3 separate regions of the Homo sapiens genome follow, and all the other regions are reported to be linked to region 1. Evidence: microRNA targets listed by miRTarBase, many of them from high-throughput screens and not tested one by one. Region 1 holds a microRNA gene; each other region holds the end of a gene's coding sequence.
Evidence for each region. The annotated mature microRNA hsa-miR-4676-5p reads GAGCCAGUGGUGAGACAGUGA and lies in region 1 at 1,881-1,901, shown strand. An mRNA with a match to its seed (bases 2 to 7 or 8) in the 3' UTR can be bound and repressed. Matches are read on the target gene's strand: a 7mer-m8 pairs with bases 2 to 8, a 7mer-A1 pairs with bases 2 to 7 and ends in A, and an 8mer does both.

Region 1 (3,000 bases):
TTCTGGAAAACACACAGCATTTCACTGTTAACATTTAAAGGATATGTAGAGAACCAGTTGAGCAAATGAACCTTTTATCTTAGAATATATGCTGTCAGAATTATAGGATTATCAAGGTACCATTATGTTACTGGAGCTGTTACAGTCTTAGTCTTATTTGTATTATAAGAAGAATAAAGTAGCTGATGTTAATAATCTGTTGTTATTGTAACCAGGTTTTTGAGATGCCCCAAAGAAGGACATCTTTTCCTTTTGGTCTGTTTTGATTCACCAAGTCAAAACGTTCAGGTATTCTTTTAGTACAGTAAAGAATGATCGGTCAAATAGTTGTGCATTTGGAATATTCATGTGTTTACGAGTGCTGGTATGTGTTCCTTCCCACTGATTGTTACATCAGCAAGTGAGCTGTAGTCTTGGTTGTGTGTGTATTTTACATGTTCTTTTGGCTTTAAGGTATCACTTAACATAACCAGAATGTAGAATTTTCTTCCCAAACAGAGCTCTTTTTGTGATTTTTCTTATTGTCACTTTTGGTTTTTCCAGTGACTTGAGGATAAATCACCTCAGGCATTTATCCTTTATATTACAAACATACAATTATATTCTCTTAGTTATTTTAAAATATACAATTAAATTATTATTGGCTATAGTCACCCTGTTGTGCTATACAATTCTAGGTCTTATTCATTCTTTTAATTATTTTGTGCCCATTAACCATTGCCACTTCCCAATCATTTTTATTGATTGATTAGTTGATTGATTGAGATGGGAGTCTTGCCGTGTGGCACAGGCTGGTCTTGAGCTCCTGGCCTCAAGTGACCCTCCCACTTCAGCCTCCTGAGTAACTGGGACTGATTACAGGTGCAAAATACTACGCCCATCTAATTAAATTTTTTTTTTTGGAGAGACAAGGTCTCACTAGGTTGCCCAGCTGGTCTTGCACTCCTAGCCTCAAGCAATCCTTCCACTATGGCCTGGGATTACAGGCATGAGTCACTGTGCCTGGCCAATAATGTTTCTGATAACCAGTGACTGCTTACTAACTTTCAGGTTGTGTGACATGCCATACATACATGATTTTATTTCATTTATTCTGTGCACCAGTCCTATAAAGTAGGTACTATAATTTCTACTGCTGAAGAAATAAAGACAGGAAGGTTCTATGTAACTTGCTCAAGCTAGTAAGTGATGGAATTAGGAATTCAGGTATATGTCTGCATACTTCCCAGTTGTAACCTCTGTCTCCCCATGCTCCTGAATGCCATGAATAGATTACTCCTTAATCACCAAGTGCATTCCCACCTTTTTCTTAGCCCTTTCACTTTGCAGATCCACTGACTATTAGGCCCTGACTTGTTCCGTTTGTTCCTTTCTCATCATCTCACTCTATCCATCCTTCAAGGCACAGCTCAAGTCCTATCTGTTCAGTGACTTCTTCCTTCTCCTTTCCAATTTATAGAATACTCCTTAGCCCTGCCACACATTTTATACTTCCATTGTGTTGAATCTATCTTTTTATATACGGATGCTTTAGTTTAAACTTCAGATTGTAACCTCCTTGAGGAAAGGGCTTGGATTACAGATTTTACTTGTATTCTCTGCAGTGTCTTATAATAGATGTTCAACAAATGTATATGTTGATCAATTGAAATGATAATAGAACCCTTAATAGCTGAAGATATGTAACGTGCATCTAAGACTCCTGGTTATTTGAGCTTCTTGAAGTACTTTATACATCCAACTAACAGTCTTAATTCAGAACCAGGAATGACATGTTTAGGTTAGAGTTAGATACTGATTTCTAGACAGGAAGCTTAGTAATTGTTGCTACATACTGATCCAAGTAAGAATAGTTCTTTATATCCAGAGCCTGAATGAAAGAGCCAGTGGTGAGACAGTGAGTTGATTACTTCTCACTGTTTCACCACTGGCTCTTTGGTTCATGCTAACAATGTATCTCACCTAGATTATATTAACAGCTTTCTAATTAGTCTCCCTGCTTTTGTTCTTTCTTACCTCTGGTCGTAATTCAGCAGTGGGAATGATGACATCAGGCAGAAGGAGACTTATTCAGTAGCTTCTGATCTCACTCAGTAAAAGACAAAGTTCTTCAAGGGGCCTACAGGTAGTGACAATAAACTGGCTCTCTGGAGGGGGAAAAGGTTCTGATTTGTAGCATTTGCCTGTTTTACTGGTATAATTACTCCCACTCTGGCTGATTCAAAGTTCTAGAATGTACAGCAATCTGCTCCCCAGTCAATATCGGCTTCAGCACATCACTGTTGAACATTTGGCTCCCCGTCTGACTCCCATCTGCTGCCACTTTCCCTCTTGCCCACTCCATTTTGTGATACTGACCTCCTTGCTATTCCTCAAACATGCTGAACATGCACCTACCTCATAGGATTTTTGCACTGCAGTTTTCTATCATTAGAATGCTTTTCTCCTGAATATATACAGGTTTTCTTATTTCTTTTCCCTCTTGAGTCTCTGCTGAAATATTATATTCTCAGTAAGGTCTTCCATGATCTCCTTGCATGAAAATTTTATTTTATTGGTTGTTCTGAGATGATTTTAATATACACTACAGTGTTTTTGTAGTCATCTAGTGCCTTGCTGTAGTGATGCATTACTGCTATTTCTAGGCAATGTCATCTGTGGGTGGGCATAATGGTTATATTTGCTGTTGAGACTTAAAAAGAAGCATTTCATTTTGTTTGAAACGAAAATATCTGTGATACATATAAACAAATCAGTTTGGGCCTCTTATTGGTAATTGCAACTTGAATTACTATCCACTTAGGCTCCTTATGGGGAATGCAACAATATTTATGGTTAAGTGTACATTTGATAGTATATTGTTCTCACAGTAACATCATTGTGGGTTTGAAGATCTGTGCTAAGTTATGAAACAATGGAATTTATACACTTTATTTGAAGATAAATTGGGTTTATAGGGAATTCTTGGTATAAATATTAACGTGTAGATTAGTATAACAT
Region 2 (3,000 bases), not on the chromosome of region 1:
ATATGATTTTCCAAAATAAAAAAGAATGAGAGAAATGAAATGAAAATGATAACAAAAGGTGGGGTGGAGAGCACTAATATTGGTCTGAAATATTTGTGCTAACGAATGTTGTTACCTGAAAATAACAACACTCCTCTCCAGCAGTTTCAGGGCATGAGAAGCACAATTATTGAAATCAAGACTTTACTCAGAGAATCGACAAGGTGAGTCTAAGGAACTATAAAGCTTTGCAGGATTTCTGCTACTCTCAGTGCCTAACCGCTTAAAAATTAAGCATTTCTACAAAAAGGTTTGTTTTAAAGTATCTGAAAACAGTCATCTCCAGTAAGTTGCCCTCCCACCCCCAACCCTGCCTAAGGGAAAAGCCACTGAGGTTTAGGAAAAGCAGATCAAGTAAGATATTAATCACATAGAAAAAAAGTAATCTTTTGTTTTGCTTTTTTTTTTTTTAAAAAAGGTCCCAGGAATATACAGCAATCTCGTAAGGAACTCTAGTGAAATGTAATCGGAGGACTGAAGGAGGGTGCTCTGGCAAAAATAGATCTATTCTAACGTGTTCTATAGAATAACAAGTTAGTACCATTGTCAAGGTGCATGTTCCGCACCATACAATTTTTGTTGTTGGTTTTTTGTTTTGGATTTTAGCTAATTATAATCTTCAAATCACTGCTAGCGAGTGGTCCAAAACTCCAACAGCCACCAACATCGGGACCCAGCAATTTCAAACATTCACTTTTTGTTTTGAAATTTAGAAAATATTAATAAAACAGCATCATAGTAAAAATATTATGCAAAAGTCTGGAACTGCTCACTTGATTTATTCCTACATGAATGGGGTTAAGTTGTAACGTTTGATTAACCTTTTACTAATGCCTTCTTCCTCCATCCCCACCAGGAATATGCATTTTTGAGCACATCATTCCGATGCTTTGCTACCCTCTTTACCTGCTTTGGAAAAAAAAACAAGAAGAAAAACCTCTATTTTTTTTTCAATCCTGTTAGTATGTTGTACATATTTTCCAGCACCGGAACTGAAGTAATATCTACAACCATGAGAAGCTAAACCTAGTATGAATAGAGTCATTTTTTGTATGGCTATTACGTCAAATTACAATTAGAAAAAAAATCATTACAATTCAGTCAAGTATAAATAAGAAAGCTAGATAAAACCATGTAAACTGTCACCATTTAGAGATCTAATTCAAAAGCTTCAAACTCGAACTAGCACTGTCAAAATTCCGCCAGTTTGAAAACCATTAAAAATTATTGCTGGAATCCAATAATTAAAATTTGGTAGTTTGTGCTGTGACGCAAGAGTGGGGAAATACTTTGTGCTATAGAACAAATACCCTGTAAAATCTGTAGCCTCAGACTAATTTTGATTTATCACTTTGCATCTGTTGCTAGGAAACAAGACACTGTGAATGTCAGGTGGTTAAGTCAATATGTTGAATGTTCTAAGCCAGTTAATCCACTTGGCGCTGCTTATGTATGGTTGGTTTTATGTTCAAAAGCAACAAAACACAAAAAGGAAACAGAGACTTGCAGGTGGATCTATGACTGAGAGTCCCACTCTGGTCAGGCATACCTCCCTCATCATTGACTCAGTACCTCCTAAACAACACAAACTCAAAATGGCTCTAAAAACCTGCAGTGCCAATCAGGCTGTGCATAGCAATTGCAACCCGTCCAGCCAATCTGTGATGGATGTAAAAGGTCTGTAGCTCCAAGTCCACATGAAGTGAGTGTCTTCAATGTGTTTAGAATAGTGAAGTAATACTAAGGTCACTTCTGAATAATATTTTTGTCTTTTTTTTTGTTTGTATGAACAATCCATTGGTCACTTAGACCCCTATGTAAAAATAAAAGAATCCTCAAGGCATGAAAACACCAGTAATCTGTAATCTGCAGGACTCTTCCCCTGTCTGGGAAAATATTTGCCACAATTTGCCTCAAGCAAATTCTTCTTGGTCACTCAAGGCTAAGAAAAAAATTCAGATTGTAAGAGTTGTAATTTTTTCTCTCTCTCTTTTTTTTTTTTTTTTGCCAGCAAACTACCATTCTGGTGGCAAATATAAAAGTGCAGAATATATGGACCACGAGGCCGAGCATACACCACTAACAATGGTACATCTGCCTGCCCAGGCTGCTTGGGAGTCTCTGGAACAGGCTTTTTAATATTTATTCTACAATATAAATGTAGGTATAACCTATTATATAAACCATCTTAAACTTAAATCTCCATGTACAAAAAAGACTAAGAATATCTAATAATAACTAGTGCAGTGCGTCAGTTTTTGTTTTTTTTTTGTTTTGTTTTGAAAGAATAACTAGGTAATATATGAAACTAGTTTCACACTCTCTGGTTGGTAAAAGAGATGCTGGGTGAGCTACAGTAAAGGCAGCCTTTTACCAAGTTACCACCTATTACCGTCAAAAGCCTTCAATAGAAAGCAAAGCTCCAGGATCATTCTGTTTCTGCTCAGTATCAGACAGATAACCTTACCCTCAAAGATTCTGGGTTCTGAGAGAACAAACTGGCCCAGGATGCTAACTTCTGCTTCAAGTGAATCTGGGCCGTGTGGGGCAACAAGCACTTGTTTGCAGTCTATATTTTCCACCACTTGGACTCACTAGCATCCCTCGGTAAAGACAAGGCTAGGGTAGTAGGTAAAGCACAATGTTTTACAATGAAAGGGCGCTTCACTGGTCAGCGCAGGAAATAAGTACAGGAGCCTGCGGCATTTCTTTTGGCTGTCCATCATGGGTGAGCGGAGTTGACCTCTGACCTCTGTAAAATAAAAGGAAGAAAAAGTCACTTATTCAGCATATGTTATTAGAGACAGGAGAGGACGATGAATAACAAGTGTGTTCCAATATCTTGTTTAACAGTTACTGCTGTTACTTACATCATTTAATGAAAACTGTTTTTGCTTTAGAGTTTTTTCTCTTCTGTCCCCTTCCTTATCCTTTTTTTCCCCTTCCTCCTTCCCATTCTGT
Region 3 (3,358 bases), not on the chromosome of region 1:
CTGATATGCTGCACTTGCCTATAACACAAAAATACAAAACAGGCTGAGCATTCCAGCGCTTTGGTAGGCTAAGGCAGGAGGATCGCTTGAGCCCAGGAGGTTGAGCCTGCAGTGAGCCATGATTATGCCACTGCACTCCAGCCTGGACAACACAGCGAAACTCTCTTAAAACACAACACAACAAAACAAAACAGACATAAAACATTGTGTTGGTAATTGCATTTCCAAATCAGTGTTATTTTGAGCAGCCCTTTGTTTCAATTATTGCTGTTCTTTAAAAATCATCAACTTGCATTTATCTGAATCATTAACTCTTTGATCTATTGGTGTTCTTACATTTAAAGATACACAGCAACTTAAATATGAATTATCCAAACCCCTTGTAGTAAAGCATAATCTCCACCCACTTCCAATTGCTTATACGGTGCCAATTCCTTATCACCAATTTGTTTTTCCAGTGATAAGTGGAAAAGGATGGAACCTTTTGCCTAACCCAAGTCGAGTTGGGCAGACAGTTCGAGAATCTCTGCTGTAAGTTACCATGGCTGGAAGAACCCAGCCCTGAAAATCCAGCACCATTATGTAACACTCATCCATTCCTTTCTGCTTTCTAGTAAATGTTGACTTCCTGGCTAGATTGTAGCTTCATGGGCAGTACCATGAATGAATCACTCTATGTCCCTAGGGCTTGGAACTGTAGATTCCATGAATGCATCAAATAAATGGGGTACATGACATGGTCACAAAACAGTAACACCTTGATTGTGACCAAAATTTTAACAAAAGAAATATCGTTTTTAAATGTGCAAAACTCTGTTAAAAGAAGTCGTTAGGGTCTGTCATGCCTTCCATGCTTGGCCAGCTCCAGGTTCTTAGCTCCTAATCAAGCAAGGTTTAAAAAAGCTCTGGATATAGAAAGCAGTTCTCTACCTCCATACACCTCCCAACCACAAATCCTTGCATTTTAACCATGCCTTCAAGCTTTAACATGGTGGCGCCTCATTCTCCAGTGTGGCAGGCAGCTTCCTGTTACTCGTATTCTTGTGTCCCTCTCCTTGAGTGTGGGCTGTGTCTCACTTCTAACAAACAAATAGACTATGGTAAAGTTATGGAATGTCCGTTTTGAGATTAGGTGATGAAAAGGCTCTGGCATCCATCTTGCTCTCTCGCTTGCTCTGATGGAAGCCACCTCCCATGTTGTGAGCTGACCCTTTAAGGCAAAGGCCATGTGGCAAGGAACTGAAGGAGGTGTCTGGCCAACAGCCAGTAAGGCACTGAGGCCCTCAATCCACAGCCCACAAGATTCAACCCACTGAACCCTCCCAGAAACCACTTCGAGCGATCTTGAAAGGCCTGTCCCACCTTGAGATGACTACAAGTATCATAGCCTCATGAGACACTGAGCCAGAGAACCCAGGTAAGCCATGCCCAGATTCCTCGTTTCAAGCTATTAAGTTTTAAGGCAATTTTTTACATAAATAACTTAACACATTTGAGACAAATGAGGCATTACTATGCCACAGCCTGAAAACTGTCTAGCAGTTACCTTAGGCAAGTTAATCTATTTTCAAACAGGAAGAGCCTTCCCCACCTCATAGACTAACTGTAATGTCTGTGTGAAGGCATCTGCTCACATATAAAATAAGTAAGCTTCCTTTGAACTCAACACAGAAAATTTTAACGGACTCAAATTGGTTTACCAATATCTTTCAAGAGGAATTTCAATTGAATTGTTCATAATTTATACTTTTTTATATAGAAAACATTTTTAACTAGTGAAAACAAAGGACACATTCAAAATCAGGTAGAAATCATGTTTCCTTTTAATTGAATACTTAATTCACAACGTTTCCTCTCTTGCTGCTACTCTGGTAATAATTAGGTCCCCACCTCTCAAGAACATTGCACCTGACTAGACTGAGAGCCAGTGTGAACATGGGCCCCAAACCAGGGCTTTCGGAATAACAAGGAACAGCCAAGCCAGCCTCTCCCTTCACTTAGAAAGGGATTATGAATGGAAGGGTCCAAATCTTCATCATCCAAACACAGAAAACCAGGAGCTCAACACCTACATGGAAACCAAAATGTATCAGGAATAAAGTACAGTACCCCTTCACATACTCAAGGTCAAGATGGGTTTGCAGAAATCATATCTGACCATCTGGCCTCTGCTAGTAGATATGGCCCCATCCCAGCATTTTTAAGAGATGTTTTTGTTGTATTATTTCCCCAAGGGGTATAAAATCTACCAAAAGGAATATAATGAATCAGAATAAATCAGCTCACTCACAAGAAACGTTCTTGGGTAATGGTTTTTAGTTGCTGAGCTTATTCAGCACATTATTTAAAAGTGGCAAAATTCAGGGCAATCTGAGAATTCAAAAGTGGCGGCCACAGGTTTGGGTAGGACACACATACATACAACCCCCATTTTTTTCAGTGTATATGTCAAGATGTCAAGACCTCAAGACCTCTGATCATCAAAATAAGTTATTTTGTATATTATAATGCACAGGACAACAGAAGGAAACTTTCTTGGAAGGTGATGACAAGGCCTTTTGCAAAAGGTCCACTCCAAAAGGACTGGTGCCCAGTGCCTTGTGGCCTTCATTAACTTGATCCCTCCTCTTCTTTGGTTGCAGTGGCCTCAATGGGAGCTGTTTCTTCTGCTTGTTCTGCTGGCTTCTTCTCTCTTTCCTCTTCCTCATCCTCATCCTCTTGGGGATAGAGGTCTGGGTATTTCTGCATGCATTCCTGCATGGCCCGGAACTGGTCTACACAGTCTGACCCCTTGATCTCCTCCGTGCTATAGTGGAAGCAGGAAAAGGCTGACTTAAACTGTTCTCCACAGGGACCGCTGGCCATTCCCCCAAGGCATGGGCAGTTCCAGTTAATGTTTCCATTTGGCAGTATCAATCCTAGAACAGGAAGATAGAGAGATGTTCTCTAAAGTTTCAGAAAATACAAAACTAGTCCAGTCCTCACAGGCTACTGAGGGGGTGCAGAACAGGAACTATTGTTGCCTATGGACCCACACCTCGATTTGGATTAGGTTTAAAGCCTAGCACATATCCAGCATTCCTTGGCCCACCTGGGAGAGAAGCCACCAATGACATATTTCTCCACGTGTGACACTAATTTATTCTAAGCCACCTCTCAGTGCTCTGAGGCTGTGCTCCAAGAATTAAATACCGGGACCCATTTAGCCCAAAGAAGAGGAGATCACTTGGATGGTTAGTGAGGAGCTTTTTGAAAGCCCAAACACTTTAAGGAACTGAGGTATTGATCTCCTCTTTCCAATCCCCCTCCCCATATGGATGATCAGGACCACCCCACCCCCATGCTCCCTGCCCCCCTG

Region 2: miRTarBase lists BBX as a target of hsa-miR-4676-5p. Seed matches in the 3' UTR shown: 7mer-m8 at 1,461-1,467.
Region 3: miRTarBase lists CHCHD4 as a target of hsa-miR-4676-5p. Seed matches in the 3' UTR shown: 7mer-m8 at 1,923-1,929.

The regions. Positions count from the first base shown.
Region 1 is chr10:72,719,158-72,722,157 of GRCh38, forward strand. It overlaps MIR4676 (microRNA 4676), which reads left to right and starts at 1,872; the gene lies at 1,872-1,943. The region is part of intron 1 of MCU (mitochondrial calcium uniporter); the gene reads left to right.
Region 2 is chr3:107,805,161-107,808,160 of GRCh38, reverse strand. BBX (BBX high mobility group box domain containing) reads right to left here. Exons shown (of 18, transcript NM_001142568.3): 18 at 1-2,791. The coding sequence ends at 2,704. Among named protein-coding and RNA genes, the nearest start is that of LINC00635, 71 kb to the left of the region's middle.
Region 3 is chr3:14,110,277-14,113,634 of GRCh38, forward strand. It overlaps CHCHD4 (coiled-coil-helix-coiled-coil-helix domain containing 4), which reads right to left. Exons shown (of 3, transcript NM_001098502.2): 3 at 1,801-2,918. The coding sequence ends at 2,611. Among named protein-coding and RNA genes, the nearest start is that of CHCHD4, 13 kb to the right of the region's middle.